Linked DNA regions of Homo sapiens: regions 1, 2, 3, 5, 6 and 7 are each linked to region 4. The links come from fine-mapping of genetic effects on gene expression. A gene starts in region 4. Each other region holds a variant in brackets. All regions are shown on one strand. Distances are between the middles of the regions. Region 1 overlaps DTX2 (deltex E3 ubiquitin ligase 2). Region 2 holds the start of YWHAG (tyrosine 3-monooxygenase/tryptophan 5-monooxygenase activation protein gamma). Region 3 overlaps YWHAG (tyrosine 3-monooxygenase/tryptophan 5-monooxygenase activation protein gamma). Region 4 holds the start of UPK3B (uroplakin 3B). Region 5 has its middle 190 kb from the start of POMZP3. Region 6 overlaps POR (cytochrome p450 oxidoreductase). Region 7 overlaps CCDC146 (coiled-coil domain containing 146).

Evidence for each region. PIP is the estimated chance that this variant, and not a neighbour inherited with it, causes the effect.
Region 1: its variant is fine-mapped to the expression of UPK3B in whole blood (INTERVAL, PIP above 0.99).
Region 2: its variant is fine-mapped to the expression of UPK3B in whole blood (TOPMed, PIP above 0.99). The same link has a PIP of 0.9 or more in lung.
Region 3: its variant is fine-mapped to the expression of UPK3B in whole blood (TOPMed, PIP above 0.99).
Region 5: its variant is fine-mapped to the expression of UPK3B in whole blood (TOPMed, PIP above 0.99).
Region 6: its variant is fine-mapped to the expression of UPK3B in whole blood (TOPMed, PIP above 0.99).
Region 7: its variant is fine-mapped to the expression of UPK3B in whole blood (TOPMed, PIP 0.98).

What each region holds. Positions count from the first base shown.
Region 1 is chr7:76,478,495-76,482,569 of GRCh38, forward strand. DTX2 (deltex E3 ubiquitin ligase 2) reads left to right here. Exons shown (of 11, transcript NM_001102594.3): 3 at 1,927-2,283; 4 at 4,014-4,075. The coding sequence starts at 2,016. Among named protein-coding and RNA genes, the nearest start is that of DTX2, 19 kb to the left of the region's middle. The variant C/A (reference allele first, on the strand shown) is at 1,902.
Region 2 is chr7:76,357,814-76,361,813 of GRCh38, forward strand. YWHAG (tyrosine 3-monooxygenase/tryptophan 5-monooxygenase activation protein gamma) reads right to left here and starts at 1,178. Exons shown (of 2, transcript NM_012479.4): 1 at 909-1,178. The coding sequence starts at 995. It also overlaps the pseudogene PPIAP81. RefSeq lists silencers at 309-499, 583-782, 1,103-1,512 and an enhancer at 607-1,253. The variant G/A (reference allele first, on the strand shown) is at 1,789.
Region 3 is chr7:76,344,942-76,349,010 of GRCh38, forward strand. All of the region lies in intron 1 of YWHAG (tyrosine 3-monooxygenase/tryptophan 5-monooxygenase activation protein gamma), which reads right to left. Among named protein-coding and RNA genes, the nearest start is that of YWHAG, 12 kb to the right of the region's middle. The variant A/G (reference allele first, on the strand shown) is at 1,581.
Region 4 is chr7:76,508,470-76,512,544 of GRCh38, forward strand. UPK3B (uroplakin 3B) reads left to right here and starts at 2,083. Exons shown (of 6, transcript NM_001347684.2): 1 at 2,083-2,268; 2 at 2,434-2,583; 3 at 3,188-3,413. The coding sequence starts at 2,184. It overlaps LOC124901675 (a long non-coding RNA gene), which reads right to left and starts at 2,264. Exons shown (of 2, transcript XR_007060388.1): 1 at 2,055-2,264; 2 at 1-1,639. RefSeq lists a silencer at 465-670 and enhancers at 1,548-2,120, 2,121-2,693, 3,447-4,075.
Region 5 is chr7:76,811,132-76,815,206 of GRCh38, forward strand. No RefSeq gene overlaps it. Among named protein-coding and RNA genes, the nearest start is that of POMZP3, 190 kb to the left of the region's middle. The variant G/C (reference allele first, on the strand shown) is at 1,571.
Region 6 is chr7:75,977,732-75,981,806 of GRCh38, forward strand. It overlaps POR (cytochrome p450 oxidoreductase), which reads left to right. Exons shown (of 16, transcript NM_001395413.1): 4 at 1,720-1,848; 5 at 2,608-2,757; 6 at 3,317-3,441; 7 at 3,786-3,875. Among named protein-coding and RNA genes, the nearest start is that of TMEM120A, 15 kb to the right of the region's middle. The variant T/C (reference allele first, on the strand shown) is at 2,190.
Region 7 is chr7:77,272,148-77,276,222 of GRCh38, forward strand. It overlaps CCDC146 (coiled-coil domain containing 146), which reads left to right. Exons shown (of 19, transcript NM_020879.3): 10 at 1,547-1,642; 11 at 2,335-2,505. The region is part of intron 2 of LOC102723791 (a long non-coding RNA gene); the gene reads right to left. Among named protein-coding and RNA genes, the nearest start is that of CCDC146-AS1, 25 kb to the left of the region's middle. The variant A/C (reference allele first, on the strand shown) is at 1,932.

The DNA.
Region 1 (4,075 bases), 30 kb before region 4:
CTCTAACTCCTGGGCTCAAGCCATCCTCCTGCCTCAGCCTCTTGAGTAGCTGGGACTATTGGCATGCACCTCCGCACCTGGCTAACTTTTAAATTTTCTGCAGAGATGGGATCTCACTATGTTGCCCAGGCTGGCCTCAAACTCCTGTGCTCAAACCACCCTCCTGTCGCAGCCTCCCTAAACACTGGCATTGCAGGTGTGAGCCACCACACCCAGTCCCCTTGACCTCTTTCAGCCTTGGTTTCCTGTCCGTAAGTGGGAGAAATGTCACCTTGGCAGTCTGTGCAGCTTAGGAGAGACAAGTACATTTGATGTTGGTTACTAAATGTTGGACCCTGGACCGGCACTCCAACAGCCGGTGCCCTGGGGGGCAGCCATCAGGTGGGGCATTTGCAGGCCTCTTCTTATTCAGACAGCTCCAGGTGCTGAGCGGAATCATTGTCCACATTCACTCTGTCATTCTGAAGCAGTGTGTAGAACATTCTAGAACACTCACCACGTGGCATGCCCCTGCTGGGTCCCGGTGATGCAGCTGTGAATGAAGCAGGCTTGGGGTTGCTGCCACCTGGGGAGGAGCAGAAGGACTGTGGTCACAGCCACACGTGGACGCGGTTACTAGGGTTCTGGTGGGTGCTGTGGAGGGTGCAGAGGGCGTGTGATGGGTCATCCTGAGCGATGCAAGCTGGGCCTGGAGGACGTGGAGTGTTCGCAAGGGAAGAGGGTGGGCTGGAGTGACTGCAAGGAGAAGGTCTCGGGAGGTGGAGCTCGGGATGTGGGGAAGAGCTCCCTGGGCCTGGTGGCCGGTCAGCAGGGGCCAGGTCGGGGAGTGGGTGCAGAGAGCCTTGGAGAGGCCAGAGAGGGGTGATTCGGTGCCCATCTAGGGCTTCCTTTTTGGTTAGCAATGCTTCAGGGCACCTGGGAGACATGAGGAGCTAGAACCTGTGCTGCAGTTCCCAGCTCTGCCCCTGCTCCCTGGGTGTCCCAAACCCTGCTCCTTTCCAAGAAATGTTGGGATCTCATCTTCAGGATGGTGGGTGCTAATAGGGAGGCTGAGGTGGGTGGATCACCTGAGGTCAGGAGTTTGAGACCAGCCTGGCCAACATGGTGAAACCCCGTCTCTACTAAAAATACAAAAAATTAGCTGGGCGCAGTGGTGCATGCCTGTAGTCCTAGCTACTCGGGAGGCTGAGGCAGGAGAATCACTTGAACCTACCCGGGAGGTGGAGGTTGCAGTGAGCCGAGATCACACGCCTGGGTGACAAGAGGGAAACTCCATCTCAAAGAAAAAAAAATACATGCATGATGAAACACACTAAGCAGTTGGGTCAGAGGGGAATTATCAGTAGCAAGAAAGAAGCTGGGCTGGTGACTAGCACCCGGAATTTATGCTCTCTTTCTTCATGGGCCTGTGCGGCGGTACGTAGGCTGCGGGATTGACTTTGAATTCTTCCTGGCTGCCACAGCAAAGAGACAGGATCAGGTTCTTGATTCATGATGCCCTTAAGGTGTTAGGGGAAGAAAAGCAAGCGTGAGACCAGGCGCGGTGGCTCACACCTGTGATCCCAGCACTTGGGAAGGCTGAGGCGAGTCTATCCCTTGAGGCTGGGACTTTGAGACCAGCCTGGGCAACACAGACATCATCTCTACAAAAAGTAAAAAAATGAGCTGGGTGTGGTGGTGAATGCCTATTGTCCCAGCTGCTCTGGAGGCTGAGTTGTGAGGATTGCTTGAGACCAGGAGTTTGAGGCTGCTGTGAGCCAAGATCACACTGCTGCACTGTAGCCTGGGTGAGAGAGTGAGACCCTGTAACCAAAAAAAAAAAAAAATCAGCTGTGGAAAAGCATCACGTGTTTCCCCTGCGCTGAGGCTGATTCTGCAGGGCTACTGATGTGCATTGGTAA[C/A]TGCTCATGTCTGTCCTGTTCACAGATCTGCCGGAGGCGCTGGGCAATGACCCCGGGACTCCAGGCCAGAGGGGTCTGAAGCTGTTTGGGAAAGCAGCGGGACTCCTTGGGAAGATGGCCATGGCCCCAAGCCCTTCCCTGGTGCAGGTGTACACCAGCCCCGCGGCTGTGGCCGTGTGGGAATGGCAGGACGGGCTGGGCACCTGGCACCCCTACAGTGCCACCGTCTGCAGCTTCATCGAGCAGCAGTTTGTCCAGCAGAAGGGCCAACGTTTTGGGCTTGGGAGCCTGGCCCACAGCATCCCCTTGGGCCAGGCAGACCCCTCGCTGGCCCCTTACATTATTGACCTCCCCAGCTGGACCCAGTTCCGCCAGGACACCGGTAAGACGCTGTCTGCCTCTCGCACATATCTGGGTGCCGCACCTGCTTTCCCACAGGCTCTGCGCCAGGTGTTGGGGTGATGGACGTGACTTACAGAGCTTCTGCTCTCTCCCTGCAGCACACGTGGTGGTGGGTGGGTGCAGTGAGTGGGAACATCCACATAGGTTGAGTGCAGCTCACAGTGGGAGAGGCACTGTGGGAGGCCCTTCCCCTTGTCTTGCAAAGCAGAAATGCCTGTCCCGACCACAGAGGTTGAAGGGTTCCTTTGGCCGGCAGGCCGGCATGGAGGTGGTGCGTCATAGGAGTTCAGAGGGCCCTGTCCCACCACTCAGTGGCTGTGTGCCCTGGGCAGGCAACTGCGCCCCTCTGCATGTGTGCGTTTCTGCTTTTTGGTCTGCGATGTGTTTTGATCTTTTTTTTTTTTTTTGAGACGGAGTCTGGCTCTGTTGCCTAAACTGGAGTGCAGTGGCGCAGTCTCGGCTCACTGCAACCCCTGCCTCCTGGGTTCAAGCGATTCTCCTGCCTCAGCCTCCCGAGTAGCTGGGATTATAGGCATCCACCACCACACCTGGCTAATTTTTGTATTTTTAGTAGAGACGGGGTTTTGCCACGTTGGCCAGGCTGGTGTCGAGCTCCTGACCTCAGGTGATCTGCCTGCCTCGGCCTCCCAAAGTGCTGGGATTACAAGCATGAGCCACCGCGCCTGGACCTGCAGTGTGTTTTGATCAGTATTATTGAGAATGAGGCACCAGTTTCCTCTCGGAGCCATCCCTTACTCTAATCTGGTGGTTGTCACTGGGGGTGATTTTGTCCCCGGGGCCATCTGACAATGTTTGGAGACATTGTTGGTTGTTACAGCTGAGTGGGTGGGAGGTGGGGGTGCTCCTGGCATCTGGTGGGTGGAGGCCAGGGATGCTGCTCGCCATCCGGCAGTGCACTGGGCTGGCCCTGCAGTAAGGAATTATTGGCCCACAGTGTCACCAGTGAGGAAACTTGAAAAACTGGTTTTTCCTTTTTTTTTTCAATTTTAATTTTAGTTTTATTTTTAAAAGTATGGGTTTTTTTTTTTCGTGTTTGTTTGTTTGTTTGTTTTTTGTAAAGACTGGGTCTCCATTGCCCTGTGTTGCCCAGGCTGGTCTTCAACTCCTGAGCTCAAGTGATCCTCCTGCCTTGGCCTCCGAAAGTGTTGGGATTACAGGCTCGAGCCGTCATGCCCAGCCCTGGAAACTATGTGTTTCCAGGAGTGTCGTAGAGTCTGTGAAAACTGTGGCTGTCAGTCAGCTCCCAAGTCGTTGCCTTCACAGTGTGTGAAGTCAACTGAGAAAGATAGCAGACAGGATAAATAATAACATGGAAATTGCATATCGTGGCAGAGAGCAGGAAGTGTTAATCGGGGAATGAAAGTGGCAGGTGTTGTAGAGGTCGATTTGAAGTTAGCTGGGTGTGGTGTCATGTGCCTGTAGTCCCAGTTATTTAGGAGGCTAAGGCAGGAGGATCGCTTGAGCCCAGGAGGTCAGGGTGGCAGTGAACTATGATCACATCACTGCACTGCAGCCTGGGCGACAAAGGGGTACCCTGCCTCTAACAATAAATAAATAAACAAATAGCAGCATGACTGTGTACCTACTGTGTTCCTATTTGTTTATTTTGGCGGTTGAAAAAAGAATTTGAACGTTCCCTGTATCTTGGGGATGCTAGCAGACTAACCTTTTGTTTTCCTTTGAAAATAGGCACCATGCGGGCTGTGCGGAGACACCTGTTCCCCCAGCACTCAGCCCCTGGCCGAGGTGTC
Region 2 (4,000 bases), 150 kb before region 4:
TTTGCACTATCAGATCAGACAGAATATTTTTTCCCCCAACTTATAGGAATTTCAACAGACGCGTGCCTGTATTCAAAAAAGAAACGGCATATGTCACACGAATCGAACCAGTCAGCTACATTCACCACCTTTTAATTTTACAGGCAATACCTACCCTTTTCAATACAAAAACATTAGGGAATAAAATGGAGATGACATGTTGAGAATGATCAATGAAAACGCTAGCGAGACAAACGTTCTCCCTTCCTAAAAGCCGGAGGACTTGCTTTGGGCGAATGGAGAAAGAAGAGCCTTTTGTTAAGAAAAACGTGAGCAAGGTGGTTTCGATTTTGCACCACGGAGCTCAGGTTTTCAAGAGACCCTATACAATGTTTCTGGGAAGATTCTCAGGGATGTGTCGGGACAGACAGTGGGGAAGATTCTGGGGGGGCTGGGGAGGTGGAAAACCGGGAGACCTGCTGAGTGAATGGGAAAGGCGCCGCCCAGACACCAGGGAGAGAAAGAGGAACCGCATCCATGCGGTCCCCCGCCCCCACGCCCAGGCTAGGAGGAGGGGGGAAGTGGGGCACAAAGGATGCGCACGCCTCCCCGCTCGGGTCCCCTGCACCCCTAGAGCCGCGGGGGCCGGAGACCCCGCTCCCAAGTCCAGCCCCGCGGGACCTCGCCCCGGCCCGCGCCCGCGCCGGGCCTGAATGGCAGCGCCGCGGGGCCACGGGGACTCCGAAAAGAGGCCGCGTCACAGCCCGGGTTCCCGTCGCCTCTCGGGACCCTCCCCAGCCCCCCTCAGTGAGCGAGACGGGGCGGTCAACCCGCCATCGCGACAGGGCGACGAAGCCCCGGGCCTTCCACGCCAAGGACCGCGTCTTCGGAGGGGCAGGGAGCGGCGGGGGAGGGGAGGAGACACTCACGTTCTTCATGGCCGCGGCCATGTCGTCGTAGCGCTCCGCCTGCTCGGCCAGCCGGGCTTTCTGCACCAGTTGCTCGCGGTCCACCATCTTCGCGGGGCTGGGTCTGGCCGGAGAAGGAGGAGGACACTGGGGCGGCCTGAAGGGCTTGGAGGGCGCGACTGGAGCCCAAGTGCCGGAGAGGACCGACCCACAGAGCGAGCAGCTGAGGCGGCGGCTGCGCGGAGGAGGCGGCTGGAGCTGCGACCGCGGGACCGGGCGCGAGGCGGCTGCGGCTGCTGTGCGTGCCACTGACGGACAACCCCCTGCGGCCCCGCCCACGCCGCATGACGAAGGCAGGCCCCGCCCACCCGTCCGCAAGCCCCGCCCATGCCCCGCCCGAGCCCGGCCGCGGCTAGAACTCCCCGCTCCCCAGCTGGGCTCACTGCGCGTCTTCCGGGCACCCCGTCCTTTCCCACTGCGCCCCCACTCTCCCCTTTTTTCACTTCACTCCCCAGTTCCCTCACCCCAGCTTCTCCAGTCGCCCCCTTACGCCTCCCCCTTGAGCCTCCCGCCCCGCCAGCCCTCGGACGCATGGGCCCCTGGGAGTTGTAGTGTAACCTGCAGTGCACTGAGGCGCTGAGGAGACCAAGGACAAAGGGGCGGTCAAGACTACAACTCCCAGCGGACATAGCGCGCAGGCGCAGGAGGACGGGGGGGGGTGCTTCGAATCCCGAGGCCGCTGGGGACCCCTGGCGGGGATCAGGGCTGCATCAGTCCCTGCGAGTGCTGATTCACCGCCCCGCCCCATATTCTCCGGGAAATTACGAGAGGAGGGGGCAGGGGCCTCAGTCCTAGACCCTGTTTCCGAGATCACGTAGCAGGTCGTGGTGGGGGAAGGACA[G/A]GAGGCGCGTCCATTGTAGATCCAGACTCTCAGTGTGGTGCCTGCCCGCGGGATGGCCGAATTAAGGGGCCAGACCCTGGGGACTGTCACCTCCACCCCCTACGAGCTTCCATTAAACCCCCCACCCCACCTTGAGGCTCTTGGGCCTGAATAGGTGAAAACATGGACGAACGACAAATACCGGCTGGCCACAGTGGTTGATTTCCAGAAAGGATGCAGCTGTCTGCTGGCTGACCCTGGAGAACCCCTTCTTCCTCTCCAGGGTGGAGTGCTAAAGATTGAGTTCAGCTACCAGGAGCCTACTCCACATCTAACTGGGCTGCGTCTAGGGCTTGGTTGTCCAGCCCTTCTCTCCCCTCCTAAGACATACATACCTACTGAGGTCACGCTGATATATTCTCGTTCATATTATTCCACATAGCTTGCAGATAGCATGGGTTTTTTTGCTTTGTTTTGCTTTTTTGTAGAGACGGGGGTCTAGCTTTGTTGCCCATGCTGGTCTCGAACTCCTGGGCTCAAGCGATCCTCACGCCTCGGCCTCCCAAGGTGCTGGGATTACAGATGTGAGCCACCATGCCTGCAGGCCTGATAGTTTTGACTGCACATTTTATTTACTTTATGTATTCAACAATTATCTATGAGAAGCTACTGTGTTCCAAGCCCTATTCTAAGCCACGAGGTACAGTAGTGAACAAAACAGACAAAAATCCCTGCCCAAGAAAATAGGTGAGATATGTACAGTATGCTAGAAGTCAGTAAGGAGTGAGTTTTGAGGTTGCAGTGAGCTGAGATTGCGCCACTGCACTCCAGTCTGGCGACAGAGCAAGACTCCGTTTCAAAAACAAATAATAAAATAAAAAGTTTTTTAAAGGCTGGGCACGGTGACTCACACCTGTAATCCCAGCACTTTGGGAGACCGAGGCGGGCGGATGACAAGGTCAGGAGATCGAGACCATCCTGGCCAACATGGTGAAACCCTGTCTCTACAAAAAATACAAAAGAACTAGCTGGGCGTGGTGGTGCCCACCTGTTATCCCAGCTACTCGGGAGGCTGAGGCAGGAGAATCACTTGAACCCGGGAGTCGGAGGTTGCAGTGAGCTGAGATCCCTCTACTGCACTCCAGCATGGGTGACAGAGCGAGACTCCGTCTCGAAAAAAAAAAAGAAGTGAGCTTTGGCCTGGCACGGTGACTCACACCTGTAATCCCAACACTTTGGGAGGCCGAAGCGGGTGGATCATCTGAGGTCAGGAGTTCGAGACCAGCCTGGCTAACGTAGCAAAACCCCATCTCAACTAAAAATACAAAAATTAGCTGGGTGTGGTGGTGGGCACCTGTAATCCCAGCTACTTGGGAGGCTGAGGCAGGAGAATTGCTTGAACCTGGGAGGTGGAGGTTGCAGTGAGCCGAGATCGTTTCATTGCACTTCAGCCTGGGCAACAAGAGCGAAACTCCATATCAAAAAACAAAACAAAAAAAAAGTGAGCTTTGCAGACTCTGCTGCTGCCAGGAGTACTCTACTACTGGCCATGGTCAATCCCACCGTGTTCTTTGACATTACTATTGAGCCCTTGGGCTGCGTCTCCTTCAAGGTTAGGGGCATGGAAACCAAGAAGCCAAGTGACCTCTCCGGAGCTTGCAGTGAGCCGAGATTGTGCCAGTGCACTCCAGCCTGGGAGACAGAAAAAGACTCCGTCTCAAAAAAAAAAAAAAAAAAAGAAGTGACCTCTCATCTAAACTGTAAAGCCATGTTAACATATCGGAGCTGTTAGCAGACAGTGTTGTAAAGACAGCAGAAAACTTTCGTTCTCTGAGCACTGGAGAGAAAGGATTTGGTTATAAGGGTTCCTACTCTCTCTTTTTTTTTCTTTTCTTTTTCTTTTTTTTTTTTTGAGACAGAGTCTCGCTCTGTAGCCCAGGCTGGAGTGCAGTGGTGCAGTCTTGGCTCACTGCAACCTCTGCCTCCCGGGTTCAAGCGATTCTCCTGCCTCAGCCTTCTAAGTAGCTGGGATTACAGGCGCGCACCACCACGCCCAGCTAATTTTTGTATTTTTAGTAGAGACGGTGTTTCACCATGTTAGGCTGGTCTCGAACTCCTGACCTCATGATCCATCCGCCTCAGCCTCCCAAAGTGCTGGGATTACAGGTGTGAGCCATTACGCCCGGCAAGGGTTCCTACTTTCACAGAATTACTCCAGGGATTATGTGTCAGG
Region 3 (4,069 bases), 160 kb before region 4:
CCATTCTTTCTGCAGGCATATCACTGTCTTGTCCTTCTGCTACACCATCCCTAAAATACCCAGATCAATCCAACCCCCTGCCCCTCCTCCCACTCTTGCAGCCAAGATTTAGGTGAGGGAGGGGGACACTGAGAGAGAGAACTAGAGGTTGAAGTCACTACAAACGGCCTGGCAATCCTAGGTTATTGCCTGCCACCTCTTCTTCATAGAGGAACGTGACCATTAGTTAAGCCTATCCTAAGGCTTTTTTTTTTTTTTTTTGGAGACGGAGTCTCGCTCTGTTGCCCAGGCTGGAGTGCAGTGGCACGATCTTGGCTCACTGCAAGCTCTGCCTCCCGGGTTCACACCATTCTCCTGTCTCAGTCCCCCGAGCAGCTGGGACTACAGGCACCCGCCACAATGCCCAGCTAATTTTTTGTATTTTTTAGTAGAGACGGGGTTTCACAATGTTAGCCAGGATAGTCTCAATCTCCTGACCTCGTGATCCACCCGCCTCGGCCTCCCAAAGTGCTGGGATTACAGGCGTGAGCCACCGTACCTGGCCAAGCCTTTCTTCCAAAAGTAGCTGCATTGATCACTGCCTCCTTTGTTGAGTGCCAACAAAAGATGTTTCTTCCCCCTCCATGGATTCCCACTGGTCATTCTATTACATTCTTCTATTGTCCCTCTCCTACTCTTCCCCATTAACATACAGTGAAAGTTAAGATTTAAAAAAATGAGGCCTGGCGCAGTGGCTCATGCCTGTAATCCCAGCACTTTGGGAGGCCGAAGTGGCCGGATCATGAGGTCTTCAAAACCGGCCTGGCCAACATGGTGAAACCCGTCTCTACTAAAAATACAAAAATTAGCTGGGCATGGTGGCACGAGCCTGTAATCCCAGCTACTAGGTAGGCTGAGGCAGCAGAATTGCTTGAACCGGGACCCGGGAGATGGAGGTTGCAGGGAGCCGAGATTGCACCAGTGCACTCCAGCCTGGGCTACAGAGTGAAACTCCGCCTCAAAAAAAAATTTAAAAATAAGTAAGTAAATAAATAAAATAAAAAATAAATGATGCATTTCAATCCCACCTCTTCCTGGTTCTTTCAAAATCAAGGTTCTGGAATTAAGTCTACAATTGTTACCATTTCTTCAATGTTTCACTCCCTCCTCAACCCCACAGCCCTACACAGTCGTCACTGTCTTCCGACCCCAGGCATCCAGTGCTCTTGGTCTTCATCTTAAGTCTGAACTCACAGAGGCATCTAACCCTGATGACCGCTCTTTCCTGAGGCTCTCCTCCCCTTGTCAGCCTTCTTTCCTGGTCTTTCCTTCCTCGTTCCAGTCACTACTTAAGTGCCAACCACTCCCTAGCGCTTTACACTGTGACACAGATGCTACATTTTTTTCTGGGTGACCTTTGTTCTGCATGGTTCCAACACACATGGATACAAAGCGGCTCCCTCTTGAATGTCAGTTCTACCAGGGAAGAGGATATTATATTCTGCAGCTGTTAGGCCAGCCTGGTTATTAGTGGATCCTAAATGTTTCTTTGCTTACACTGTGCCAGGGCACTGTTACGAATGGCGGTCAAATTGACCTGT[A/G]GCCAAGTTAATTTGCCTCCACTTAAGTGTTTCCTCAAATTCAGCAGAACACCAGAATTCATCTTTTCCACCATTTTCTCCTCCTCTTTCTTCTTCTATCTCTGGCCACCCATTTCTGCCTCTCCAACCTGCCCTTGCCGTTCTTGTCCAGGTCCCTGAAGACTAGACCTGACAATCTACTCCTCAGCCTCCCCTTGCTCTGCCTCACTGTCCTACTCAGTTTCCACACTGCTGCCTGGGATCTCGCCACACCAAAAATTAGATTATGGTCCTCTTCAGCCTGAAGAGACTCACCATGGCTTAAGAAGAAACAAACCTCAGAAGGCCCTTCGTGAACTGTTTCCTGTTAACCTCTTTCAACTCATTTCCTGCTACTCCCTCAAAAAGCGCACCACCACAGCATTCCCTGAATGCCACCAACAAGGACTAAACAAATCACGCCACCAGTTCTCCTTTTCCATCCTGAAACTAAGCGTCCTATGCCCTCTGCCTGGCTATTCCTTCCTCCAACCTCTCCCCCTCCCTCAAGTTTCCCAAAGACACTGCGCAGGCATCACTTCCTCTAGGAAACCCTCCCTGACGACCAGTGTCAACTAAGCGTCCGTCTCCAGTAGCACAGCACCCTAGGCTTACTTCAATTTCTTTTGTGGAATCAAGATCCCCACAGATGTTCAACAGGACTCCCATCACAACCGTATCTTTCCTAGGATTTTAGATCAGTGCATTTATTTCTTTCACCTGCCTAAAATGTCTACAAAATATTCAAATGCTTACATCCAAATACTCAAATGTCTGCCGGGCACAGTGGCTCATGCCTGTAATCCTAGCACTTTGGGAGGCCAAGGCAGGTGGTTCACCTGAGGTCAGGAGTTCAACACCAGCCTGACCAACATGGTGCAACCCTGTCTCTACTAAAAATACAAAAAAATTAGCTGGGCATGGTGGCATGTGCTACTTGGGAGGCTGCAGCAGGAGAATCGCTTGAACCTGGGAGGTGGAGGTTGCAGTGAGCTGAGATCGTGCCATTGAACTCCAGCCTGGGAAATAAGAGGGAAAATCAGTGTCAGCAAACAAACAAACAAAAAAAACACTCAAATGTCTACGAAAATATCTTATATACAATATAAATAACTAGCATCTCTTTTCTTCCTTTGATCTTCACCCAAATCCTCAAAACATGCTCCAAACTCCAGTTTGCAAATTCCACATAAAACTATATTATTCTGGTTTTTACTTGCTATACAAAAGGTTTTCTCTTCCTCCCAGATCTGTTTCTTTTGAGTGAGGTATCTGCTTCCATTCGGTTCTGAGTGGTACCCTCATGCCTCCTGGCAATATCTCTAAGACTCCAAACAGCAAAACTACAGCACTTACCTCATGTTAAAAATCTCAAGCTCTCCTTTGTTAAATGACATTCAAAAAACACACTGCAATCGTGGGATCGAATGTTTTCTAAAAGAAACCGGGTTACACTTGTATTGAGTAATACATCTTTCAACTGTCCTAAAGGAAATGAGTTCTTCTGTATTTAAACCTAGATGACACGCCACCACCTCAAGGTTAACCAATGGAAAAATTATTAAATATGCAGCAGTTTAAAAGGATTTTCCATGCATCTGCAAGCAATGGAACATATGCTAAAATTAATTGAAAGAGATCAATTGAAACAACAGCTGGTATCCACTTTACCCATGACCCCTTTTCTAGAAAAAACAAAAACTTAAAACAAGAGCCTTAGACTTCGTTTTTTTTTTTTTTTTTTGGAGATAGCGTGTCGCCCAGGCTAGAGTGCAGTGGCACAATCTCAGCTCACTGTAGCCTGTCTCCCTGGTTCTAGTGATTCTCATGCCTCAGCCTCCAAGCAGCTGGGACTATAGGCGCACGCCACCATGCCCGCTAATTTTTTTTTTTTTTTTTTTTGAGACAGTCTCACTCTGTTGCCCAGGCTGGAGTGCAGTGCAAGCTGCGCCACCCCGGGTTCACGCCATTCTCCTGCCTCAGCCTCCCGAGTAGCTGGGGCTACAGGTGACCGCCACCACGCCCGACTAATTTTTTTGTATTTTTAGTAGAGACGGGGTTTCACCGTGTTTGCCAGGATGGTCTTGATCTCCTAACCTCGTGATGCACCCACCTCAGCCTCCCAAAGTGCTGGGATTACAGGTGTGAGCCACCGCGCCCGGCCTAATTTTTGTATTTTCTGTAGAGACAGGGCTTCACCATGTTGGCCAGGCTGGTCTCAAACTCCTGACCTCAGGTGACCCGCCCGCCTCCACCTCCCAGAGTGCTGGGAATACAGGCGTGAGTCAGCCAGCCTCCCAAAGTGCTGGGATTACAAACCATGAGCCTTAGACTTTGAAAAAAAAAATTTTAAGGCAAATTAAACATTTCCACCTTTAAAATCAGAAGATTATCACTTTATAAAACTGTTGTGAAATTAAATGGGAAAAGTACATAAAAATGCTTCCCAAGGTGACAGTAAACGTCAAACT
Region 4 (4,075 bases):
CTGTAGTGCGGTGGTGCGATCTCAGCTCACTGCAACCTCCGCCTCCCGGGTTCAAGTCATTCTCCTGCCTCAGCCTCCCGAGTACTTGGGATTACAAGCACGTTCCACCACACCCGGCTAATTTTTGTAATTTTAGTCGAGACAGGGTTTCACCATGTTCGCCAGGCTGGTCTCGAACTCATGACCTCAAGTGACCTGCCCACCTCGGCCTCCCAAAGTGCTGGGATTACCGCCGTAAGTCACTACACCCAGCCTCAAAAACTATATTTTTAAAAATTAGCAGCTGGGCGCAGTGGCTCATGCCTGTAATCCCAGCACTTTGGGAGGCCAAGGCAGGTAGATCGCGAGGTCAGGCGTTCGAGACCAGCCTGGCCAAGTTGGTGAAACCTCATCTCTACTAAAAATACAAAAATTAGCTGGGCATGGTGGTAGGTGCCTGTAGTCCCAGCTACTAGGGAGGCTGAGGCAGAAGAATTGCTTGAACCCAGGAGGTGGAGGTTGCAGTGAGCAGAGATCACGCCATTGCACTCCAGCCTGGGCGACAGGGTGAGACTCCATGTCTCAAAAAAAAAAAAAAATAGCCAGGCACGGTGGCTCACGCCTGTAATCCCAATACTTTAGGAGGCCAAGGCAGGAGATTTGCTTGATCCTCCCAGGAGTTAGAGATCAGCCTGGGCAACATAGCAAGATCCTGTTTCTATAAAAAATACATTTTTAAAAATTGGCCAGCCGGGCGCAGTGGCTCACACCTGCAATCCCAGCGCTTTGGGAGGCTGAGGTGGGTGGATCACCTGAGGTCAGGAGTTCGAGACCAGCCTCACCAACGTGGAGAAACCCTATCTCTACTAAAAATACAAAATTAGACAGGTGTGGTGGCACATGCCTGTAATCCCAGCTACTCAGGAGGCTGAGGCAGGAGAATCACTTGAACCCAGGAGGTGGAGGTTGCGGTGAGCCAAGATCGAGCCATTGTACTCCAGCCTGGGCAACAAGAGTGAAAACTCCGTTTCAAAAAAAACAAAAAAAAAATTGGCGGGGGTGCCAGGCACGGTGGCACATGCCTGTAATCCCAGCACTTTGGGAGGCCAAGGCGGGTGGATCACTTGAGATCAGGAATTTGAGACCAGCCAAGCCAACATGGTGAAACCCCGTCCCTACTAAAAATACAAAAATTAGCTGGCCGTGGGGCACATGCCTGTAATCCCAGCTACTTGGGAGGCTGAGGCAGGAGAATCGCTTGAACCCAGGAGGCGGAGGTTGCAGTGAGCCCAGATCACGCCACTGCACTCCAGCCTGGACAACAAAGGAGACTCCATCTTAAAAAAAAATTAATTAAATAAATTTTAAAAATTAGCCGGAGCATGGTGTTGTGTGCCTGTGGTTCCAGCTACTGGGAAGGCTGAGGTGGGAGGATTAACTGAACCTGGGAGTTTGAGGCTCCAGTTAGCTGTGAACTGACCTCCCTGGGTGACATATATATATTTAAGCCACTGAGCTGTGAAGGTTGTGAAGGTATGTGAGTTATGTCTTGAAAAATACACACATAGTGAGCGCCAAATCCCGGGAGTAGTGTTTAAGTGGCGGGCTTGTCAGCTGTCAAGGGCTCTGCAGCCCTTTCTCTGAATCCAAGTTCTTCTTCCTGTGGACAGGGAACCCAGGCTGCGAACTGGGAGGATGTGGCCTCGTGGGGGGCAGGGCCAGCGTGCTGTGATGGGGATGGGGCTGGGCAGGTTGGGGCTGCCTGCTACTCCCCACTCCTGACTCTGGGTGGGGACAGAAGGCAGAGGGAGGCTCCTGGCACCTGGGGCACAGGAATCTCAGGCATGTGGTCCTGAGCCTGTTTCCAAAAGCCAGACCCTCCTCCCCAGGGCGGAGAGACTGGGAGGGGCCCCAATCCAGGCTCCGGGATGGCCTGGCTGGCATCTGGGGTTCCAGTGGCCCCTCTCCCTTGGCCCTGGCAGTGGGGCTGGATACTGGCCTGCCTCCCACCAGAGTCCCCCCAGCTCCTCCCTGCTGTGGGCTGGCCTGGGAGGAAGGGGGTGGGGTGCACTTACATTTGCAGGTCTTTCCAGCCCCTGGGGCAGCCTGATTAACCAGCTTCTCCAGGGCCAAGCTGTTGGGGGTGAGGTGCAGCCCGAAGCAGCCAGACCAGCCCCTGAGCCTCCCGGGTGCTGGCAGCTGTCATGGGGCTACCCTGGGGGCAGCCTCACCTAGGGCTGCAGATGCTCCTCCTGGCGTTGAACTGTCTCCGGCCCAGCCTGAGCCTGGGTGAGTGGGGGTCCTGGATGGACGCGTCCAGCCAGACCCAAGGGGCTGGGGGCCCTGCTGGAGTGATTGGACCCTGGGCGCCCGCCCCCCTCCGATTGGGAGAGGCAGCCCCAGGGACCCCCACGCCCGTCTCCGTGGCTCACCTTTTGTCCCCCGTGGCCACAGAGCTGGTGCCCTACACACCACAGATAACAGCTTGGGACCTGGAAGGGAAGGTCACAGCCACCACCTTCTCCCTGGAGCAGCCGCGCTGTGTCTTCGATGGGCTTGCCAGCGCCAGCGATACCGTCTGGCTCGTGGTGGCCTTCAGCAATGGTACGGGGACTGCTGTGGGGCCTGGGTGAGGGTGACGGCTGAGGAGAGTGGTGGGCCCTAGGAGCCCCTCACCAGCAAGCGCCTTCAATGATTGAGCCCCTGTGGGGGCCTTTGGGAGAGTAGGTGTGGATGAATTGGGCTTTATCTAAAGGGGTAATATGTGTATTGAAAAATACACACGTAGTGAACACCAAATCCCGGGAGTAGTGCTAGTGGTGGGTTTGTCAGCTGTCAAGGGCTCTGCAACCCTTTCTCTGAATCCAAGTAGTTCTTCCTTTGGACAGGGAACCGAGGCTGCGACCTGGGAGGATGTGGCCTCCTGTGGGGCAGGGCCGGTGCACTGCAATGGGGCTGGGGCTGGGGCTGGGCAGGTTGGGACTGCCCGCTGCTCCCCACTCCTGGCTCTGGGTGGGGACAAAAGGCCAGAGGGAAGCTCCCCTTCAGGGGTAACAAAGTCGACTGGGTCTGGACTATCTCTGGGGGCCCTGAGGGAGGAGGTGGCATGGGGGGTCAGGGCTGGAGACTGGGCGAACACAGAACCCCCACTCATAAGGACAAAGCTGCTTTCTCCCCTCCCACCTCCATCTGTTCTCTCCTCCTGCAGCCTCCAGGGGCTTCCAGAACCCGGAGACACTGGCTGACATTCCGGCCTCCCCACAGCTGCTGACCGATGGCCACTACATGACGCTGCCCCTGTCTCCGGACCAGCTGCCCTGTGGCGACCCCATGGCGGGCAGCGGAGGCGCCCCCGTGCTGCGGGTGGGCCATGACCACGGCTGCCACCAGCAGCCCTTCTGCAACGCGCCCCTCCCTGGCCCTGGACCCTATCGGTGGGTGGTCCCCACCGGAGCCCTGGGACTGGGGCTGTGCTTGGGGCGGACGCATTGCTGGGACCAGGGATGCTCTCTCTAGCATCTTTCCAGGGAGGGGTCCCCGGCCCCGGTCCTCCCCTTTGCAAGCCCGGGCTCCTTCCACTGTAGAGTCAGCAACAGTGCTCACCCCCGCTGGGGCCGGGCAAGGCCCAGGAGGAGCAGGTGGGCACCTTGGGGAGGCGGGATCTTAGTCAAGGTGGGAGGGGGCAGCTTCCCCAAAGTCTAGGCCCCTGTCCCCCACCACGGGCAGATCTGGCAGGAAACTCGGGGGCCGAGTTCAGACCCAGTCTCGTCGGTATTAGGCAGGGAGCAGGAGAGGTGGCTCCTACCCGCTCTTACAGATGAGGAAACTGAGGCACAGGAGGTCAAGTGGCCTGCCAACATCGGGGTGGAGCCGGGATGGGGAAGCAGGCAGTGTGTCCAGGTCAGGACTGTCCGGACACAGGAGGAGGCGGGGTGACCTCAGGAAGACCAGGCCCAGGGGAAGCCGGGAAGGCAGGGCGTGGTGAGGCTGGAACAGCACCCCGCTCCGCCCAGCCCCCTTCTGCCCTCTCACCCACTCTCCAGGTCCACCCTCTGCCCTCCCCGCTGCCTCACCCTGGCTCAGCCTTCCAGCTCCA
Region 5 (4,075 bases), 300 kb after region 4:
TTTTTTCCTTAGTAAGGATTGTTTTTATCACATTGACATTTAGTTTATTAGAGCTAACTTTATAAGACCAGTTCCTAAAGAGCTTTTTACCTAAATCTGTTGCCATTTTCTATAGATAAGATGAGAAAATGCTGAAAAAGTATGGTTTTTCCCTCAAAGATTATTCAAAATAAAATCACATCATCAGTTCTTTACCACCAGGAAGCGGCATAATTACCTCAGACTTTCAAGGAAACAGGTATGCCCAGCAATTGGTTTAATTTAGGCTTAGAATTGTTTTCTTCATCCAAATTGCTAGTTCATCTTCTCTATCCTTGATATACTTTTTAATGGAAAAGAATCTATTTCTATTATTGACTTGTAAGAGTATAATTGAAAAATAATTAGCAAGGCTTTTACAAATGAATGCAGGAAAGAGAAAAGATATATATATATATATATATATATATATATATATATATATATATATATATATATATGTATGTATGTATATACTTCAAAAGTAGTTTCCAATAAATGCCACTAGTCTGGTATCCAATAAATGCCACAAAAAATTAGAAAAGAGAACTAACTTTTGTGGCACTTTTAACATGCACCAGACAAGTTAGATATGATTATTCCAACTTAATATTCACAGCATCCCAATGTTACCCAAAAGAAAATGAGACAGAAAGGGTTCAATAAACTTGCCCCATCTCACATGAGATTTACTGATAGAGCCAAGCCTTAAATTCAAGTGTATCTTATCGTAAATTCCTTGTCTCTTCTGTCTCATGTTAAAACATTGAAAACTAAACTGGAGTAGAATTCTGTGATTGAAGTATAATTTGCAATAAGAAAGTCATGTTATTTATTTAGTCAATAAGAAAGACTTTAAATCAATGTATTTTTGCCTTAGTGTAATAATTATTGGATGCATAGTGCTTAACTAGCTTTATCAGTATCTATAATATGATTTGTTTAAATCATGTCTTTAACTTTTGTTTTAAGTTCAGGGCTACACGTGCAGGTTTGTTACATAGGTAAATTGCATGTCATGGGAGTTTGGTGTACAGATTATTTTGTCACCCAGGTAATAAGCATAGTGTCTGATAGGTAGTTTTTGTTGTTGTTGTTGTTTTGTTTTGTTTTATTTTGTTATTGAGATGGAATCTCACTTTGTTGCCAGGCTGGAATGTAGTGGTGCGATCTCGGCTCACTGCAACCTCCGCCTCCCGGGTTCAAGCGATTCTCCTGCCTCAGCCTCCCGAGCAGCTGGTAGTACAGGTGTGTGCTACCATGACCAGCTAATTTTTGTATTTTTAGTAGAGATGGGGTTTCACCATGTTGGCAAGGATGATCTCGATCTCTTGACCTCGTGATCTGCCTGCCTTGGCCTCCCAAAGTGCTGGGATTACAGGCGTGAGCCACCGCGCCCAGATGATACGTAGTTTTTTTTATCTTTAATTTTCTCCCACCTTCCACCCTCAGTAGGCCCCAGTAGCTGTTGTTCCCTCCTTTGGGTTCACATGTACTCGTGTTTAGCTCCCACTTATAAGTGAAAACATGTAGTATTTGGTTTTCTGCTCCT[G/C]TGTTACTTTGCTTAGGATAATGACCTCCAGCTCCATGCATGTTGCTGCAAATGACATGATCTCATTTTTTATGGCTACATAGCATTCTATAGTGGATATGTACCACATTTTCTTTATCAAGTCTACCACCGATGGTCAATTAGGTAGATTTTATGTCATTGCTATTTGAATAGTGCTGCAATGAACATATGCATGCATGTGTCTTTAGGGTAGAAAGATTTATATTCTTTTGTGTATATATCCAATAATGGCATGCTGGGTCAAATGGTAATTCTGTTTTGAATTCCTTAAGAAATCACCAACTGTTTTCCACAATGGCTGAACTAATTTACATTCTCATCAGTAGTGCATAAACATTCCCTTTTCTTCACTACCTCACCAGCATCTGTTATTTGTTAACTTTTTAATAATAGCCATTCTGACTGGTGTGAGATGGTATCTCATTGTGGCTTTGATTTGCATTTCTCTAATGATTATTGATGCTGAACATTTTTTCATATGCTTGTTGGCTGCAGATACGTCTTTTAAAAAGAGGCTGTTCGTGTCCTTAGCCAACTTTTTCATGGGGTTATTTATTGCTTGTTAATTTGTTTAAGTTCCTTATAGATTCTGGATATTAGATCTTTGTCAGATGCACAGTTTGCAAAATATCTTCTTCTGTTCTGTAGGTTATCTGTTTACTCTCTTGATAGTTTCTTTTGCTGTGCAGAAACTGGTTAGTTAAATTAGGTCCTATGTGTCAACTTTTGTTTTTGTTACCATTGCTTTTGGTGTCTTCATCATGAAGTCTTTGTCAGGGCCTATGTCCAGAATGGCACTTCCTAGGTTATCTTCCAGAGTTTTTATAGTTTTAAGTTTTACATTTAAGTCTTTAATCTATGATGAGTTGACTTTTGTATATGGTATAAGGAAGGGATTCCGTTTTAATCTCCTGCATATTGCTAGCCAGTTATGACAGCGCCATTTATTAACGAGAAAGTCCTTTGCCCATTGCTTGCTTTTGTCACCTTTGAGGAAAATCAGATGGTTGTAGGTGTGTGGCATTATTTCTGGGTACTCTATTCTGTTCTATTAGTCTATATGCCTGTCGTTGTACCAGTACCATGTGGTTTTGGTTACTGTAGCTGTGTAGTATGATTTGAAGATGGGTAACTTGATGCCTCCAGCTTTGTTCTTTTTGCTTAGGATTACCTTGGCTACTTGGGCTCTTTTTTGCTTCCAAGTGAATTTTAAAATAGTTCTTTTCTAATTCTGTGAAGAATGTCATTGGTATTTTGATAAAGAATAGCATTGAATCTGTAATTTGCTTTGGGCAGTATGGCCATTTTAACCATATTAATTCTTCCTAGCCACGAGCATGGAAAGTTTTTCCATTTGTTGTGGCATCTCTGATTTCTTTGAGCAGTGTTTTGTAATTCTCATTGTAGAACTCTTTCACCTTCCTGGTTAGCTGTATTTTTAGATATTTTATTCTTTTGGTGGCTATTGTGAATAAGATTGCATTCTTGATTTGGTTGTCAGCTTGGATGTTGTTGGTGTATAGGAATGCTGGCAATTGTTGTACATTGATTTGTATCCTGAAACTTTGCTGAAGTTGTTTATCAGATCACGGAACTTTTGGGCAGAGACTATGGGGTTTTCTAGGTATAGAATCATATAACCTGCAAACAGAGATAGTTTGACTTCCTCTCTTCCTATTTAAATGACTTTTATCTCTTCCTCTTACCTGGTTTCTCTGCCTAGGACTTCCAATTCTATGTTGGATAGGAGTGGTGTGAGTTTTGTCTTGTGCTAGTTTTCAAGGGGAAAGCTTCCAGCCTTTTCCATTCAGTATGATGTTGGCCACTGGTTTATCATAGATGACACTTACTGTTTTGAGGTATATTCCTTCAATGCCTAGTTTGTTGAGGGTTTTTTACGTAAAGGGATGTTGGATTTTATTGAAAGCCTTTTCTGCATCTATGGAGATGATCATGTGGTTTTTGCTTTTTGTTCTCTTTATGTGATGAATCACATCTATTGTTTTGTGTATGATGAACCAACCTTGCATCCCAGTATAAAGCCTACTTTATTGTGATGGATTAGCTTTTTGATGTGTTGCTGGATTTGGTTTGCTAGTTTTTGTTGAGGATTTTTGCGTCTATGTTCATCAAAGATACTGGCCTGAAGCTTTCTTTTTTTATTGTGTCTGTGCCAGGTTTTGGAAACAGGATGATGCTGGCCTCATAGAATGAGTTAGGAAGGAGTGCCTCCTCCTGAATTTTTGGAATAGTTTCAGTAAGAATGATACCACCTCTTCTTTATACATTGGGAGAATTCAGCTGTGAATTTGTCTGGTTCTGGACTTTTTCTAGTTGGTATGCTTTTTATTACTGATTCAATTTCAGAACTGATTATTGATCTCTTTAGGGATTCAATTTCTTCCTGGTTCAATGGAGGTCATATATTTCCAAGAATTTAATCATTTGTTCTAGATTTTCTAGCTTGTGTGCATAGAGGTGTCC
Region 6 (4,075 bases), 530 kb before region 4:
CGTGCCATTACACTCCAATCTGGGCGTCAGAGCGAGACTCCGTCTCACACACAAAAATAAAAAAAAGAAAAGAAAAAAAGAAAAATGCCTTAGGCACTGAAGACCAGGCACTGCAGAGAACCTCACATGTGCATGAGGGGCCAGGAAGCCTTGGCCTCCCTTCCACCCTTCAGATCTTGCAAAGCACGTTCAATTGGCTGAACCGAATTGGCTGCAACTCCAGCCCCAACGGGCTCTGGGGAATAGGATTTCAGGCTTTTCAACAGCTGCTGGAGGAGGAGGGTGGACTGACGAGTATGTGAGCCAGCCCCTAGGACCTTTCCCTGTTGTAAAATTTTATAATGAATATGTATTTAACCAGCAAAACACATCCAGAATGCCCCATTTAGGGACCCTCGGTATATTTCTTGCCAGTCTGTTTTCTTTGTGCCTGTGGGTATAGAAAGAAAATACATATGTATGTTTTGATATACATATCTATTATTTATATAACACAATTGGATTGTATAGCCAGCCCTGCATATCCGTGAGTTCGGAGTTCAAGAATTCAACTGCAGACTGAAAATATTTGGAGAAAAAATGGATTGTTGTGTCTGTCCTGAACACATACTGTCATCTTACTGTTCCCTAAACAATACAGCATAGCAACTATTTACAGAGAATTTACATTACATTAAGTATTACATTAATAAGTAATCTAGAGATGATTTAAAGTATGTTGGAGGATGTGTGTAGGCTACACACAAATACCACATCATTTTATAGCAGGGACTTGAGCATCCTTGGATTTTTGTTTTTTGGGTTTTTTTGTGATGGAGTTTTGCTCTTGTAGCCCAGGCTGGAGTGCAATGGCGCGATCTCGGCTCACCACAACCTCTGCCTCCCAGGTCCAAGCGATTCTCCTGCCTCAGCCTCCCAAGTAGCTGGGATTACAGGCATGTGCCACCATGCCCGGCTAATTTTGTATTTTTAGTAGAGACAGGGTTTTCTCCATATTGGTCAGGCTGGTCTTGAACTCTCGACCTCAAGTCATCCACCCGCCTTGGCCTCCCAAAGTGCTGGGATTATAGGCGTGAGCCACTGGAGGTGGAGTCTTGCTCTGTCACCCAGGCTGGAGTGCAGTGGCGTGTTCTCAGTTCACTGCAACCTCCACCTCCTGGGTTCAAGCTGTTTTCCTGCCTCAGCCTCCCTAGTAACTGGGATTACAGGTGCACGCCACCATGCCCGGCTAATTTTTGTAGTTTTAGTAGAGATGGAGTTTCACCATGTTGGTCAGGCTGGTCTTGAACTCCTGACCTCAGGTAATCTGCCAGCCTCAGCCTCCCAAAGTGCTGGGATCACAGGTGTGAGCCACCACGCCCGGCTGCATCCTTGGATGTAAGTATCTATGGGAGGTCCTGGAACCATTCCCCCACGGATAGGGGCTATACATTTGGTTACTTTTTTTAACTTTGTTTTTTCCCCGTGTCATGAAAATGTCAGAAGTGTGATCTTGAGCAGCCGCGTGTGTGAGATTGCCTTGGTGACCTTTGCCCTCCTTTGCCACAGTGGCTGTGACAGTGAGAAGCAAGTCCCAGAGGAACTTAGAAGGGACTCAAAGCCAGGAAGGAAAGGGGGCGGCCTGGAGGGCCCCCGCCTGCCAGGCCTGCCCAGTGGGTGTTCACCGGAGCCGTGGCTGAGGTCTGTGGCCCTCACCAACCCTGTGTCTGCCTTCCTTAGGGGAGGAACATCATCGTGTTCTACGGCTCCCAGACGGGGACTGCAGAGGAGTTTGCCAACCGCCTGTCCAAGGACGCCCACCGCTACGGGATGCGAGGCATGTCAGCGGACCCTGAGGAGTATGACCTGGTAAGCTGCCACCGCGTGCTGGCCCCAGATGGAGGCAGTGGGTAGGACAGGGAGCAGGTCTGTAGGGCGCCCCTCAGCAGGGGGAGGCCGGCAGGGAGTGGGGTCCTGGGAAGACGTCCTCGGAAGTTGCCTTCCCGTGAGGGTCATTGCCATCCCTGCCCGGGCTGACTGACGGAAGGGCCATTCCTGCAGTTGCAGCCACGTGCCAGGCATCGTTTCCCCAGGACTGGCCCTCCCCTGAGTGCCGGCTGCCCTCCTGGCGGCCGCCACATCTCCCAAACCAAACCCACCCTCCCCAGCTGCTCCACTCCCCTCTCCTTCGAGGTCTTGGTGACGGGCAC[T/C]ACCCCACAGCCCTCTCCAGGCTGCATTTGCAGTTGATGAACAGTTTAGTTAGATATCAGTGTGCACCGGGGCTGTGCGGTGCCTGGGAGCTTTGGAATGAGGTTCCCAGGGTGGCCCCAGACCTGCATCAGCTCAGGAGGCTGCATTCTGATGGCTCTTTTGTGCCAAGCTTCACTTTCCTCTAGAAACACATCCTCTCCGCTCCAGCCTAACACGGGTGACCTTGTCCTGCCCACCTGGCACAAATGCCCATGCCCCAGCCCCTCCGTGTTGTTACTTCTCTCTGATCCCACGACACTCAGACATCCCTGGCCTGGTGCCACCCTGGGCAGGACCTGGCCTTCCCCATCTGGTGCGGGTTGAACCTTGAACAGGCTCAGTCATGGCCGGGGCGCGGTCCTGTCCCTGTTTCTGCAGGCCGACCTGAGCAGCCTGCCAGAGATCGACAACGCCCTGGTGGTTTTCTGCATGGCCACCTACGGTGAGGGAGACCCCACCGACAATGCCCAGGACTTCTACGACTGGCTGCAGGAGACAGACGTGGATCTCTCTGGGGTCAAGTTCGCGGTGAGTCACCCAGAGACTGCTATGGGCTCCCGGTGGCCTGCGGTGCCTCCCTGGGGACTCCAGATCCATGTATCTGAAAGGCAGCCCTCCAGACCCCCACCCTGTCCTCAGCAGCCAGGGCAGGCCACTTGTGAGACCCTCTCCTCTGCCCCAGACCCCAGCACTACGAGAATGTCCCCTCCCTGTCCCCAGCCCCAGTCGGCTCCAGGGGGCATTGGGTGCTGGAGACTAAAGGCAAGAAAGGTCTGGCTGGACGACTGAGACCTGCCTGGCCTCGGAGAGCTGGAGCCCCAGCCCGGTGGGGAGGGTGGGCTGGCCCCGCTTCCCTGTGGGTTGAGGCTGGCAGTGGACGGGGCAGGCTGTGGGCTGCAGGTCAACCAGATGAAGCCTCTTCAGTGGCCCAGTGTTCCTTGCAGTGCGAGGCGCCTGGTGGAACGGAGGCCTGCAGGTGTTGCCAGCAGCTCAGCCAGTGCTGTGGGGCCTCCCGCCCTGCCCCCATGGCCCCTCCCACTGGTCAGGTCGAGGGCCAGGCCTCAGAGCGGCCCCTGTGTCCACGCAGGTGTTTGGTCTTGGGAACAAGACCTACGAGCACTTCAATGCCATGGGCAAGTACGTGGACAAGCGGCTGGAGCAGCTCGGCGCCCAGCGCATCTTTGAGCTGGGGTTGGGCGACGACGATGGGAAGTGAGTGCCCACCCTGCCACCATGATCAGCGCGGCGGGCTTAGGCAGGGGCCGTGGAACGTGAGGGGCGCGCACACCATTGTGTCAGCTGAGACTCAGCGACACGCACCTCCAACACAGAGGGAAGGGGCTCTCCTGCCTCTGCCCTGCCCCTGCCAGTTTTGCTTTTCGGCTTGCCCAACTCCCTGGAGCCTTCCTGATGCTCTGGGTTTATGTCGCTGGGTGCCCCAGGGTGCACAGTCCTGAGCTTTGGGGATGGGGTGGGGTCGGGGCGTGCCTGGCACCAGGTACCGTTGCCACATGGGCCTCCCCTGAGCCGCTCCCCCTCTCCTCTCCTCGGCCCAGCTTGGAGGAGGACTTCATCACCTGGCGAGAGCAGTTCTGGCCGGCCGTGTGTGAACACTTTGGGGTGGAAGCCACTGGCGAGGAGTCCAGGTGAGCAAGTGCCCGCAGGTGCGGTGGGTGGCCTGGGCGGGTCCTGTGCCGAGGGCAGCCACCCTGGAACAAGGGCTGGCAGTGGGTCGCAGCAAGGTTAGAAGACACTCCGTCATAGGGTCGAGGAGGGACCTTGGTCCCAGCCAAGGACTCACTCTGCCACGTTGCTCTGCACTGCCCTGGGGCAGCGGGGTGCATCC
Region 7 (4,075 bases), 760 kb after region 4:
CCAATTATTCAATTCTATACTGAGTTCTCCCTTTTCTGATCTGCTATAGCAATTTTATGTTTGTTAAGCCCACAACATTCTGTATATTGTCAGACATGTTTCACAAGACCACATCTCGTTTTCCTAAGTCCAGTGTGTGCATCTCAAGAGCTAGTGCTCCAGGGTAGGAGACCCAATGGAAAAGCAGGACATGGACACCTGAGGGTACAGAAGGTGCTACTGAAGATACCCTGATTCATGGATGATGGGGCATCCAAAGACACACTTTAGTGACTTTAACATAGCAGCATGATCCTCAAAAAGATCCTGTTAAGTAACCTTCAAATCACTAGACAGTGTGATATTCCTTTCTTGGGTCTAAATTTTGGCCATTATTCAACCTTAGGGCCTACAAGTGTGTGCTGTCACAGTAGGAACTGAACCACATCAGATTGGAGTCATGAGCTTTTGGTGTAAATAGCCAACTCTAAACTTGCTCTAAGTCAAGTAGGCTGGAAGCACCCCAAGATGACCCTCCCTGTAGCCTTGAATGGTACCCTTTCCCCATCAGCTGCCACATGTCCTCCTCTCTACTCTCGTCTTCATCACAAAGAATCTGACAAGCTCATTCCTAATAGGGCAACAAAGACTTAAAGAGTGAGATTTGCCTTTTCCCTAAAGTACGTCAACACAGGAGAAAAGTGCAAGCCGTTACAACAGAAATGTAATGGTGAAATTTTAGGTATCAACCAAAAAGTTGAGGCTTTTCTTTTGTGTAAGAAATTTCCAGCTACTAATCAAATGACTATATATAAGTAGCAAACTATCCCCACTATTATTAATAAATTACATATTTTTCTTTATCCTATACAATTTCATAAATGTACTCACATTTTATAATAACTATAATTTGAATAGTCATAGTATATTCATGTCTCCAAAGTGCTGGGTCATGAGTTAGATGAGTTAGGCAGATCATGGGTTCCAAGTCTACCTCCCTGGGTTTACACCTGCACCATTGAGGCAAGTTGCTTAAATGTGTTTGTGCCTCATTCTCTTCATCTGTACAATTGGAGAAAATATTCCCCACCTCATGAGGGGTATTGTAATGATGAAATAAGATCGTATACACAGGCATTTAGAACCTTGCTGGACACTTGGTTTATGTTCAATAAATGTTAGCTATTAGTAAGATTTATTTCTAAATAATAAACATTTGCAGCTGGCAAATTATAGATTTTTGGCAGGTCTTCATATTTTAATTTGCCATGGCTTATAAAGAATATTTGGCATAAAGGGAAGTTCTTATAAGATTGAGATTCGTGATTTGCTCAGCATTTTCAAAAAGTGTGTGATGAGGTTGACTACACAGCAGTGAATTTTATTTATTTATTTATTTATTTATTTATTTTCAGACAGAGTCTCACTCTGTCACCCAGGCTGGAGTGCAGTGGCACGATCTCAGCTCACTGCAACTTCTGCCTCCCGGGTTCAAGCAATTCTCTGCCTCAGCCTCCCAAAGATTTATTTCTTACATAAATGCATGTTTTTAAATTTTGATTTCCAGATGGAAGCTATCCCCAAAGATGATTCTACATTATCTGAGAGAAGGCGAGAGCTTCACAAGGAAGTTGAAGTAGCTAAGAGGAATTTGGCCCAACAGGTTAATATCAATGCTCATTTAAGCTTCTATCTAAGAAGCGTTCATACAAAGTTGTGCTTTTAACTGTGCTCCACAAAACCTTATCAATAAGAGAGTCATCAAAGAGAGTATGATCCTGCTTCATGTGGGCATATTTCTTCATCTCAAAGTCCACTCCAATCCTACACTAAATTTGAGAAAAAAGAATATGTTTGAACCGCAAAAAGTATTCAAAGGAATGAGATTTTTAAATTATGGGCTGTTGATTACATTAAAAGTAAACCACAGATGTTTTATTTCACCAATGTCT[A/C]ATTTCAAATTTTCGTTTGTTTTTATGTGTCTTCTTTTTCTTAGTCACTTGAAAATACAGTCTAAATACAAAGAGGTTCTATCATGTTAACCCATCGATTTTCACATTATTTTACAAAATGAAAACAATGAAGCTAAAACACCATTACTTTATTTTTAATTTTTATTTTTTTTATAGAGAGGGATCTTGCTATGTTGCTCAGGCTGGTCTTGAACTGCTGGCCTCAAGTCATCATCCTGCCTCAGCCTCCCAAAGGCTTGAATTACAGGCGTGAGCCACCACACCTGGCCTGTTTAAAAAAATACATTTTGTATAGGAAGTAAAAAGGTAGTCTAAGATACTAGCTTTACTGTATTACTTCAAACAAATAACTTATAATATTATCTGTGTTTTTTTTCAAAAGAAAATTATATCAGAAATGGAGTCTAAGTTAGTAGAACAACAACTTGCAGAAGAAAACAAGCTTTTAAAGGAGCAAGAAAACATGAAAGAGCTAGTAGTCAACCTTCTCCGCATGACTCAAATCAAAATTGATGAAAAGGAACAAAAGTCCAAGGATTTCCTGAAAGCTCAGGTAACTGCATTTTTTTAACCATTCATTGATAACTACAAGAGTTCAGGGTAGCCTCATTATAATGCCACGTGCATTAGGACATGGATGAAGCTAGAAACCATCATTGTCAGCAAACTATCGCAAGGACAAAAAACCAAACATTGCATGTTCTCACTCATAGATGGGAATTGAACAATGAGAACACTTGGACACAGGAAGGGGAACATCACACACCGGGGCCTGTTGTGGGGTGAGGGGAGCGGGGAGGGATAGCATTAGGAGATATACCTAATGTAAATGATGAGTTAATGGGTGCAGCACACCAACATGGCACATGTATACATACGTAACTAACTTGCACATTGTGCACATGTATCCTAGAACTTAAAGTATAATAAAAATATATAAATATTAAAAAAAGAACTGGAAGGAAACTCAAAAAAAAAAAGAAAAGCTATACAATTGACCCTTGAACAACATGGATTTGAACTGCATGGGTCCATTTATACACAGATTTTTTTCAACCAAATGCAGATCAAAAGTAGAGTACTCACAGAATACAAAACCTGCAAATATGGAAGGCCCACTTTTCTTACAGGTGAGTTCCACAGGGCCAACTTTGGGACTGCTTGAATATGCTTGGATTTTTGTATTCTCAAAGGGTCCTGGAACCAGTTCCCTATGTATACCAAGGAACCACTATAACTGTGCCTCTCCTTCAAGTACCAGTGACTATAAATCTTCCCTAAATGAGATTCAATCATGCACTGAAAGATAGTCCCAAGATTCAATTAACAGTAATCAACAATTTAGATGGGAAAGGAGATCATTGATAATGATCGGAGGATTTGAACAGATGGCAATTTCAGTAAGAATAAAGTGGGTGCCTCCAGTGGACAGGGCTGGCAGCTGCATAGGCTGCAGATATCATTTAGTTTTCACTCCCATCTCAGACTCCACTGTGATTTGTCCAGGAACAACTCAAGAGTGGTAGCATTAGGTAACTGTCCCTCCCAACTTCATCAAGACAGCATCATTTAATCGAATGCCAGATACCCTTAGTTGCTTCATCACACCATGATTTTCCTGGGCCTCCTACAAAGTGCCAGTGCAACATTCCCCCCTAAAATCAACAATAAAACAAATGGTAAGGCAGCACTCCTGTCATGCAAGCTAAAATTCTACCATTAGAATTGTTTATTCCATATAAGGATTATGTCCAGATCATGCCCAGAAGCTCCCTGTTAAAAATAAACAGGATATTACATATTACTAAAATAGAAGAATTTATCAGGCCAGGCATGGTGACTCATGCCTGTAATCTCAGCACTTTGGGAGGCTGAGGCGGGTGGATAACTTGAGGTCAGGAGTTTGAGACCAGCCTGACCAACATGGTGAAACCCCATCTCTACTGAAATACAAAAATTAGCCAGGCATGGTGGCAGGTGCCTGTAATCCCAGCTACTTGGGAGACTGAGGCAGGAGAATCGTTTGAACCTAGGAGGTGGAGGTTGTAGTGAGCCAAAATCGCACCACTGCATTCCAGCCTGGGTGACAGAGCGAGACTTCCTCTCAAAAATAAAAAAAAAAA